3 linked regions of the Homo sapiens genome follow. Changing the gene in region 3 together with the main gene of any one other region gives a genetic interaction. Each region holds a gene or a part of one and is shown on either strand. Other genes may lie near its edges. The genes, in order: CHEK1, KRAS and MTOR.

What was found.
Region 1: changes in MTOR (region 3) and CHEK1 are lethal when combined (synthetic lethality), as found in Homo sapiens cells (2 studies listed by BioGRID, with this or other methods).
Region 2: changes in MTOR (region 3) and KRAS together harm fitness more than expected from each alone (negative genetic interaction), as found in Homo sapiens cells (3 studies listed by BioGRID, with this or other methods).

The regions. Positions count from the first base shown.
Region 1 is NC_000011.10:125,622,924-125,626,674, reverse strand, and holds the start of CHEK1 (serine/threonine-protein kinase Chk1), read right to left. Parts: upstream 1,513-3,751; 5' UTR 915-1,512; coding exon of another isoform or gene 663-914; exon of another isoform or gene 103-662; coding exon of another isoform or gene 100-102; exon of another isoform or gene 33-99; intron 1-32. UniProt on the Homo sapiens protein: Serine/threonine-protein kinase which is required for checkpoint-mediated cell cycle arrest and activation of DNA repair in response to the presence of DNA damage or unreplicated DNA.
Region 2 is NC_000012.12:25,223,184-25,226,934, forward strand, and holds part of KRAS (GTPase KRas), read right to left. Parts: intron 2,591-3,751; coding exon 2,431-2,590; intron 1-2,430. UniProt on the Homo sapiens protein: Ras proteins bind GDP/GTP and possess intrinsic GTPase activity. Plays an important role in the regulation of cell proliferation.
Region 3 is NC_000001.11:11,234,836-11,238,586, forward strand, and holds part of MTOR (serine/threonine-protein kinase mTOR), read right to left. Parts: coding exon 3,567-3,751; intron 3,214-3,566; coding exon 3,008-3,213; intron 2,925-3,007; exon of another isoform or gene 2,901-2,924; intron 1-2,900. UniProt on the Homo sapiens protein: Serine/threonine protein kinase which is a central regulator of cellular metabolism, growth and survival in response to hormones, growth factors, nutrients, energy and stress signals.

The sequences.
Region 1 (3,751 bases), on a different chromosome or scaffold from region 3:
CAGGATTGCCCACGAAAATTAACAGCTCTTGCCTTCCCCTTCTATCTCATCCACATTTATCCAAGTCTTTCAACCACGAACAACTATTCTAAACCTGACCATTTTGTCGTGTAAATCACAATCGCCACTCCCAAGCACACCGAAGGTTGAAATTCTGCCCTCCTCAGGCCCCAGAGGAAATTAATTGTTGTTATGAAGAGGTGGGAGACAAATGCTTTCCGGCGAACGACTGGGGAAGGAGGAGGGAGAGGTGGGGGTCTGGGGAAGAGAGGAAGAGGATATAGGGAGCGGTATGGGGCAGAAAACGCCTGCGGCAGCGCCTCCTCCCAATTGCTCAATTCCAATTCCCATCCCCATCCACAGCCCCACCCGTCCCAAAGGCCGGGGCGGGGCCAAACTGCCCCCAGAGGCGAAAGGAAGGGCTGGGACTCTTCCTTGGGGTTCTTAGCTAGCAGCGGGTTAGTCCCTCCTGCCCCCGCCCCCACAACGGGAACCTCCTGGTACCATTCCTCCACCCTCCGAAACCGCCCCTCCGCAGGAGTCTCTCCAATCCCCTGCGCTAGTCAATGCTAACTTTCTCCCACCATGCCCTCCCTCACTAATCTAGACCCCGAACTCCTTCTTTAGAAACCTTCCCTACTCTACCGGCCGCCCTTCCTCACCGGACTGTCCTTTGCCCACCACTGCAGGAATCCAAATGCAGCGCTTTTCCCGCCAAAACTTGAGGGCGTCACGCTGCCGCAAACTCGCGCACCCGCGCCGTAAAGCAAGACAGCGCGCGTTCCCGTGTCCTGCCCCTCTGAATGTCGGCGGCTCCAAAAGGGTGACGTGGAGATGTTGCCGCTCCCGCCCAGGGCTGCTTTGCAGTCGGGGAGAGATCCTGGCTGAAGAGATTTAAGGACGGCGGACCGCATCGGCGCGAATTGAGCTCTGGGCCCAAATATGAAGTGGCATCCGGTGTGAGGCTCGACTGGGCGGTGCTCGAGCGCTGCTGGGGGAAGCCCAGGCCTCCAAGCCTCAGGGGCGCGCGACCGACCGCGCTGCGCTTCCAGGCGGGGCTGCGGGCTTCGCTCCTGGCCGCTCTGGGCCTGAAAGGCTGCACCGCCACCTGCGTGAGGCCACCGGACAGGACTGTGAGGATCACAGTCGGTGAAGCAGAGTGCTTTGTAAACCTCAGAGTGCGGTACTCGTGGTGCTGGAGCCGAGAAACCAGCAGCAGCTGCTGAGAGCCGACTGTGAAGAAATGGGAGGAACTCCGTGTTGGGAGCGAGAGGCTTCGAAAGAACTGGCCACGCAGTCAAGTGTGTGTGGCGGGGCAAGTTTCCCGGAGAAAGCGAGCAGTTTATGTTGGAGCTTGAAGTCAGGATAACCAGTTTTGCCTTTTTTCTGTGAACCAGCTCCAAAACAATGCTTTACTTCAGCCCGGTCTTTTTGCAGGAAGACCATCTGCTTAGCTTAGTTCTACAAACTTTTTCATTTTTAATGTGCAAAGAACAGGCGGGGAGAGCCAAAATAAATCTTACAACGCAAATTTAAAAGCTGCGTACGTCATTTAAGTGGAAAAGTAAATTCTGAGGAAAGAGACTCAAGAACAAAATAGGAAAAATGGAAATAAGTATTCTCTGACAGTAAACTAGACTGGAACTCAGGGATAGGCAGGATCATCTCCATTACATTCTCCAGCACTGGCCGGGCGCAGTGGCTCCTGCCTGTAATTCCAGCACTTTGGGAAGGCGAGGCAGGAGAATGGCTTGAGGCCAGGAGTTCAGGACCAGCCTGGGGAACATAGGGAGACCCCATCTCTACAAATAAAAAAATTTAGGAATTAGTCGGGCTTGGTGGTGTGTCCCTGTAGCCCTAGCTACTTGGGAGGCCTAAGCAGAACAATCGTTTGAGTCCAGGAGTTAGAGGTTAGTGAGCACTACTGCACTCCAGCCTGGGCAACAGCATGATTCCGTAGGAAAAAAACATATTTTTTTATATGTATATATTTTATATATATACATATATATTTTCTTAGTCCTTAAGACTGGGCCACATACAAACACTAAGCATAACTGGCTATTATGATAATAGTAAAGTGAAACAAGTATAAAATGTTACTCAAGGCCGGGGCCTGGTGGCTCACACGTGTAATCCCAACACTTTGGGAAGCTGAGGCGTATGGATCACCTGAGGTCAGCAGTTCAAGACCAGCCTGGCCAACATGGTGAAACCCCCGTCTCTACTAAAAATACAAAAATTAGCCGGGCACGATGGCGAGTGCCTGTAATCCCAGCTACCCAGGAGGCAGAGGCTGCAGTGAGCAGAGATTGTGCCACTGCACTCCAGCCTGGGCAACAGAGCAAGACTCCGTCTCAAAAACAAACAACCAACAACAAAAACACACATTTCTTTTAAAGAAGCAAAGTCAGGAACAAAAATCAAGGAAAAAACTCTTAAAATGCTTATGTGTATAGTTTTGAATCATGACATCACAGATTAGGCTTCATGTAATCTTTTTACAGTTTGTTGTTTTTGGAGACAGGGTGTGTTGCTCTGTCACCCAGGCTGGAGTGCAATTGGGCAGTCTTAGCTCACTGCAGCCTGGAACTCCTGAGCTCAAGTGATCCTCCTACCTCAGCATCCCAAGTCACTGGGATTACAGAAGCGAGCCACAGGGCCTGGTATAAAAATAAAAGCAAGTTTTTATATCATTTATCCCATTTTCTCTTGTTTCCTCACTGTGTGCTGAAAACAAAGAATACGAAGAGGAAGACCTGCAAATTTCCTGTGTGTCTGATGGAGTCTTTTTAGCCTGAAAAAAAAAAAAAAAAAGATATACAGACTCCAGCAGAATACCAGTTAAAGACAGAATACATAGAAATAGCCTCTATTCTCTTCTGAAAGCCCACTAAAATATTTTAATAGTAAAGGATACCAATATTTAAAAGAACCCATAAGAACAGAGTATGAGACACATTTTGGAAAGCAGAAAGCCTTTAGATGAAAGGTAATGAAGATGAATCCCAAAGCTAGCAATGGAAAGCAGAATTAACATCACAGAACTCTGAAAAAGCTCAAGTTGAACTGGTGACACCAGGTAACTGAAGGTGGAGGTAAAAATGGGGCTAAAAGGGGTAGGTTTAAAGGCTACATAAAAAACAAATAGATCCCCGTATCCCTTCCCTTTCTATGTAACCAAGGAACTGTCCCTCCCCAAAGCTGGTACGAGATTTAAGAGGGTAAATGCACAGTATGTGAACTGGAGACCATTAGGCACAGTTAAAAGCTTGGGCACCTTACTGAAAACGGAGGGATTAAGTTTAAGTTTTATCCACTGAAGGTTGAGCCTGTTACAACTTCTTTCCCTACTCTACTCCCAGAAAGCTGACTGCCTGGCTTACATCCTTGAGTAAGAGAATATGCAAGCCTTCTCAAGGGAATCTTACCTATGCAAAAGATAAAAATCTAAAAATCAGTATCATGGATTTCCCAATGTAACAGCCCAGCCAGATCACAGTAGATTGAAACCCACATTATTAATCCCCATCTACACCCCCTACAAACAGACCTTTCAATCAGCTTTTTTGGGTCCCACTCTTTTTTTTTTTTTTTTTTTTTTTTGAGACAGTCTTGCTCTGTCTCCCAGGTTGGAGTGCAGTGGCATGATGTCTGCTCACTGCAACCTCCACCTCCTGGGCAATTCTCATGCCTCAGCCTCCCCAGTAGCTGAGATTACAGGGTGTGTACCCCACACCCAGCTAATTTT
Region 2 (3,751 bases), on a different chromosome or scaffold from region 3:
GTGGTATAAAAAGCATCTTTTAAAAGTTGTAAGTAAAGCAAATATAAAACAACAATGGTAGAATCTAGGTAGTATATTTGCAAATGTTTTAAATAAAACTCAATTTTGTATTTGAAAATGTTTCATAAGAAAATGTTGGAAGAAAAAATAATAAATATTAGAATCATGTTTTCTCAGTACCTTCTCTCCTAAGAAAAGTCAAGGAGACTGTAAAGACAGTAAAAAGAAAAACAAAAACCAAGCCTCTTCCTGGTCTTTGGAACCTGGAAATGGATTTATGTGAAATCTTAATTCCTCTAAAGTAAAGTGATATATGATATACACCAAGTTTAACCTATAAATCAGGTTTTAGTAAAATTGCCAGATAAATCTGTACAATGGTCAAACTAGAGAAATTCAGTTTTTAATCCTCCCAAAATGACTTGAAGTAGAATTTACTGTTTCTTTACTATATATCAAATTTGTATAACTAGGAAGAGGTACATATGCTCTCCTACTAGGGAAATACAACATATATATTAGCTGGATAATGATTTACATTTACATTTTTGCACCTTTATGAAATTTGATAAACTTCTAGAACGCTTGTTTTTAAATGTTTAACAATGTAAAAGTTGTTCAGCAATTTTTTTTAACTCCTAGCATTACAGAAGTTAATTTCTACAAAACTGGTTTTCTGGGCTCACAGGTAAATGTAACCAGAAAAAGCCCTAAACAAATTGATGGAATATAGATGGATCAATTTCTTAGTACAGTCATGTACCACATAATGACATTTTGGTCCACAGGAGATTGCATATGTGATAGTGGTCCCATAAGATTATAATGGAGTTTAAAAGTTCCTATTGCTTAGTGATGTTATAGCCATCCTAACACTGTAGTACGACACATTGCTCACGTGTTTGTGGTGATGCTGGTGTAAACAAACCTACTGCACTGTCAGTTGTATAATGGTATAGCACCTATATTGTTATTTTATAGTGTACTCCTCCTATTTACTAAAAAAAAAAAAAAAAAAAAAAAAAAGTTAACTATAAACAGCCTTGGATAGGTCCTTCAGGAGGTATTCCAAAAGAAGGCAATGTTATTATAGGAGATGACAGCTCCACGTGTGTTACTGCCCCTGAAGATCTTCCAGTGGGACAAGATGTGGAAGTGGAAGACAATGATATTGATGGTCCTGACCCTGTGTAGGCCTAGGTTAATGTGCATGCATGTCTTAGTTTTTAACAAAAAAGTTTAATAAGTAAAAACAAACAAAAAATTTTAAATATGGAAAAAAGCTTACAGAATAAAGATATAAGGAAAGAAAAATTTGTATAGCTGTATAATGTGTGTTTTAAGCTGTATTACAAAAGTCAAAATGTTAGGAAAAATTAAAAAGTTTAAAAAGTTACAGTAAAGTAAGGTTAATTTATTATTGAACAGAAATTTAAAAAAATATATAAACTTAGGGTAGCCCAAGTGTAGGTTTAGACACACAAAACTTACCATTGTGTTAACAATTGCCTTATAGTCATTAGTACAGTTACATACTGTACAGGTTTGTATCCCTGGGGCAAGAGACTATACTACATATCCCAGGTGTATAGTAGGTTATACTACCAAGGTTTGTGTAAGTATATTCTATGATGTTTGCACAATGACAAAATCACCTAACAATGTATTTCTTAGAAAGTATCCCTGTCATTAAGAGACATATGACTACATATAACAATTAATTCCTTCCTATCTTTATGTATTCATTTCCTATATGTTAAACTCTTCATACAAACAGGTTAAATAATAGCAACTGAAATTATTTTATTTTACCTGAAGAAAAAGTCATTTTTAAAACAAAGATGATTTTTGAAACAAAATTCAGGTTCTCTCTGGCAATAATTTTTGTCAGAAAAATGCATTAAATGAGTAACAGAATTTCTGTTGGCTTTCTGGGTATTGTCTTTCTTTAATGAGACCTTTCTCCAGAAATAAACACATCCTCAAAAAAATTCTGCCAAAGTAAAATTCTTCAAATACAACAACGTTTAACCTAGAAACATGACATAATGGTTTAAAAGTACTACCGAAATAGAAAACGCAAAAATTTGTTGCCCTGTTCTTTATATATATATATATATATATATATATATATATATATATATATATATATGTAACCATGGGAAAAAAAAATCCCCACCTCTTGAATTCTAAATGTTAACATGTGCTCAGAATTGAAGAGAAATTTTCAATGTAGAAAGAAACCAAAGCCAAAAGCAGTACCATGGACACTGGATTAAGAAGCAATGCCCTCTCAAGAGACAAAAACATTTACTAAATATTGTTTTATTTCCTAGTATAGCATAATTGAGAGAAAAACTGATATATTAAATGACATAACAGTTATGATTTTGCAGAAAACAGATCTGTATTTATTTCAGTGTTACTTACCTGTCTTGTCTTTGCTGATGTTTCAATAAAAGGAATTCCATAACTTCTTGCTAAGTCCTGAGCCTGTTTTGTGTCTACTGTTCTAGAAGGCAAATCACATTTATTTCCTACTAGGACCATAGGTACATCTTCAGAGTCCTTAACTCTTTTAATTTGTTCTCTGGGAAAGAAAAAAAAGTTATAGCACAGTCATTAGTAACACAAATATCTTTCAAAACCTGTCCACAACTTTTGTCATAAAATTTGGCTGAAAGAAAACAATGTAATTCCTAGTTTCCACTACACCAAATTTTCCTTCCTTCTTCTACTAGTTATTTTGTTTCTTTACCTTTTTAAACAGAAACCTTGTATCTCTCTCAAAAGATCAAATACCTAGAAGTATAGTAAAACTATAACCTAATAGGTTAATATGCAGGTAGATCATAATAGTAAAACAGAAACTACTGAAAAATTCTAGACCCAAAGTGCTATATAACAGACTATAATTTTAGAAACGTATGTTAAATGTGTAAAGATAAAAAATATTTTACAAAAACCTGAATTAAAGCATTAACATAATTTTCATATTACTTTTTCAAAAAACAAAGTGGACAACTAGAAAGATTTTGATTTCTAGGTAGGCAACACTGAAGTTACTACACCACTTATTCCATTAAAAGCCCTTCTACATGTTAATCATTTTCAATATAACAAGTGCATAAACTCTAAATTTGGGGTGAAATTACATTCCCTCACAATTTTAGGTGACTTTCAAAGACACAGCACAAAAGAAGGAGCAGAGCAGACAACAGAGTCAGAATTGGCTCAAATTCCCGGTTCCGAACACCATTAGCTGGGTAAACTTGGATAATAGAGCTGAAATTTGGTAACTCCTCTATAAAAATACTACCACTACCACCCACCCAAATGTCTTTTCCTCTATTACTAGACTATACAGTAAACATGCTGTAACAATGTTCTTAAATAAAATGTTAAACTTCTTATAACTAGGCTAACTCGTTATTATATGACATAGCCACTGAGTGATTCATTTGCTTAATATGTAGTTTTTGGAAAACTAAACCCTCAAAGAAATAGAATATAAAATAGTATAATAATGATTATTTTAATAGTTTTATGCAGCTTTGTCAGATTTAAGAGAACTGTAATGCCCAAATTCTTCAATCTTTCAAAACTTTTATTTTTTAAAATATATAATGCCACTGTTTATCCAATCCAAGCAATTCTATGCTATACACACGATTGCTTTTAAGACTGTTAAAGTGACACCATCTCAAATCATCTTTTCATATTCTTTTTTATGGTTTTCTTTTTTAATGAT
Region 3 (3,751 bases):
CACATTGGTTCTAGCTGACATCCTTAGGACACCAGCAAATCAGCATATCTTGCTCATGGTGACATAGACAGCATAATATAGACAGATTTCTGGATAAAGCTGCCAGAAGGAAATCGATGAGCAGTGACAAAAGCAGATGTCACAGAGCTCAGGTTAACTCAGCTACCCAGAGGAGTCTACAATTTAACATTACATTTTGTCTTAGGTTACTGACTTAATAACCCGATTTTTCTGGATTCCCCTGGCAGCCTGTTTTCCCCAGTCATAGCAGACCACAGGGAAAAGAAATGAAGGGGATACTGAGAATAGACCTGCAGCACCAAGAAGACATGGCTGACTGCAAGGAAATGTGCCTCACGGAGCAGAGCCCAACTATCTGCAGCAGTGCGGGGCCAATCCAAAGAACCCCAGGTTCACTTAGAGCCCGAGAGCCTCACTGCATCCTAATAACAATAACCAATGCCCACCCTGATGACCAAGACCGCAAGAAAGGCCAAAGTCGGCCAGGCACGGTGGCTCATGCCTGTAATCCCAGCACTTTAGGAGGCTGAGGCAGGTGGACTGCTCGAGCCCAAGAGGCAGAGGTTGCAGTGAGACGAGATCCCACCATTGCACTCTAACCTTGGTGACAGAGTGAGATTCTGTCTCAAAACAAAACAAAACACCAAAGCCTTTACCAAGGCATGAAAATGTACACCTCAATTTGGAAAAATCTATATCAAAGTTTAAAAACAAAAAAGAGTAATTTTAACATTTCAAGGGCTAAATTCAGTACATAAATTCATTCAAAGGAGCTTCACACTCTGCAATATTGAAAAAATGAAATGGCCTGATAGCTTAATATCAGCTTTAAGAAGATTAGAGCCAGCCGGGCGAGGTGGCTCACACCTGTAATCCCAGCACTTTGGGAGGCCGAAGCGGGCAGACCATGAGGTCAAGAGATTGAGACCAGCCTGGCCAACATGGAGAAACTCCATCTCTACTAAAAATACAAAAATTAGCTGGGCGTGGTGGCGGGCGCCTGTAGTCCCAGCTACTCAGGAGGCCAAGGCAGGAGAATCGCTTGAACCTGGGAGGTGGAGGTTGCAGTGAGCCAAGATCACACTACTGCACTCCAGCCTGGCGACAGAGCGAGACTGTGTCTCAAAAAAAAAAAAGAAAGAAGATTGCAGCCACGCCTGGCTTGTTGACTGCTATATTCCCAGTGCCCAGCAGTACCTGGAACATAGCATGTGGTCAAAAAGTCTGCTGACAGAATGAACATATTGATATTCTCATTAGGAGGTATTTCTTATTTTTTCCTTTTTTTTTTTTTTTTTGAGATAGGGTCTCACTCTGTCACCCAGGCTGGAGTGCAGTGGCACAATCACGGCTCACTGCATCCACAACTTACCAGGCTCAAGTGATCCTCCCACCTCAGCCTCCTGAGTAGCTAGGACTACAGGTATGCACCACTACACCCAGCTAACTTTCGTATATTTTGTAGAGACGTGGTTTGTCATGTTCCCCAGGCTGGTCTTGTCAAACTCTTGGGCTCCTGTGATCCGCCTGCCTTGGCCTCCCAATGTGCTGGGATAACAGACATGAGACACTGCACTCAGCCGTTTAGGAGATATTTCTACGCCAAATTAATTTAGCATGATTTGAGCTGGCAGGCTCAACAGTGATTTCACGTTTTTTTTTTTTTTTTTGAGACAGAGTCTCGCTCTGTCGCCAGGCTGGAGTGCAGTGGCGCGCTCTCGGCTCACTGCAACCTTCACCTCCTGGGTTCAAGCAATTCTCCCTGCACCAGCCTCCAGAGTAGCTGGTATTACAGACGCCTGCCAACATGCCTGGCTATTTTTTTTTTATTTTTAGTAGAGATGGGGTTTCACCATGTTGGCCAGGCTGGTCTTGAACTCCTGACCCCAGGTGATCTGGCCACCTCGGCCTCCCAAAGTGCTGGGATTACAGGCATGAGCCACCACGCCCGGCCTTCAACAATGATTTCTATTCCTTCCTATAACTGAGGAATGTTTTTAAGACTTAAAATGGCAGGCACTTCTAACGCAGGCCGGCAGTTAAATAAATCATTACGCTAAAAATAGAAGTGCCAACATAAGTACAACTTCCTAATTTGTTGACTGATGATATAATTTACAGCCACTTTATAACAAATTGTGAACAAACATTTCTCTAGAGTGAGTTACATATATTAATGATTTTCTATGTTTAAGTTCCTTATATGTTATAAAAAGTGTTTACTTCAAAACAAACCATGAAGGAGGATCAGGAAGCAAACAGTGAGCAATGGGGACAGGAAATGACTGGGTGAGCAACATAGAGACCCACAAGAGGCAGGTGGAAATAACTTCACCAGGCAGGACTGGTGTATTGGCAGGACTCCATGTATTGCTCACCAGGAGGCCACAGATCTTACTCAGTAGGTGAAGACAAAAACTGAGGAGCCATGTCTCCAGAGCAATTCTACCTTACGCTACAGACCAAGCAGCTGAGCTTGGCATTCTCATATTATTTAAGAACGAAAGCCAGGATCACAGACTGGAGCAATGACTATTAGAACAAATAGTGGAAACGGTCTCACACTGGTTATTTTTGTGAAGAACAACGGCCTCCGTGCTTGACCTGGCACCAGCAAGAAAAGCAGGAGAGCTGAAGGATAGGGAGGCGCTGGGAAGTCTGACACCATCTGCAGCAGATCAACCCAGCAAGCAAAGAGGGCCAAGAAATGGGATCACTGGTGACTTGCCAGGAAAAAGAAAGAGCTGCATGAGAGGACTCTGAACCACCTTAGAGTCATATTGACAAAGGGCTCATGAGGTGATGAGCACTGGAACTGCCATTATAAAGCCAGGGAAACATTTGGACCTTTGCAGACAAATGCGGCTTTTACCAGGTACCTCAATCTTTCTCCCCCATCCTTGTCCTCAACTCCGCTTCCTCAAGCAGTTCTCACAGCGAGAGTCCTGTCTTCCCTGCCTGTGGGTCTGGCCATCACCTCGGTTACCTGGATGAGCATCTTGCGCAGGAAAGGCATGACAAAGGCAGGGTTCATGCTACTGAGTCGGCCCACAGTGCAGATGGCCAGCTCCCGGATCTCAAACACCTGGTCATTCAGAGCCACAAACAAGGCCTGCAAGTTCTCCGCCTGGGCCAGGTGTGCATCAAAGCGCTCGTCCAGGGACGCCAAGACACAGTAGCGAATGTCAGGGTCTGCAAGAGCAATGGAGCCTTTGAACATTTCCTCATGATCCCATCACTCCAGCCCTTCCCAGCTTCTACCTCCACTGCCATCAGCGTAGTGGGAAGATTCCAGATGCTTTTTCTCATCTAACCTCTGTCATTCTTTTCTCTACTCACAAGAGTAAAAGACAAAAGAATTAAAGGTAGATTATCTTACACCAAAGGCTACAGTAGCCATGCCTAACACGCCTTGGCAGAGAAATAGCTGAATATCAGCTTTTTGAGCCGAAGAACTCTAGAGAGGCCATGTAATGAAACTGGCTACTCCCAATTGTCCTAAGCTCCTTAACTCCCCTAGATTCCTTCTGTCTGGCAAGCCTTACCAGGATCTGTTATCCCAACTACGAGCAGTTTGCTAAGCACATCTGCCACCACTTGCACTGCGGTCTGGCTAACCACATGAGCATGGCCACTGATGAGGTGGATGGAGGGTGTGAGCAGGCGGGAGCAGGTGCGGGCAGCCTCCATGCGGATCTCCTTGTGCTCACTGTTCAGGAAATGATCCGCA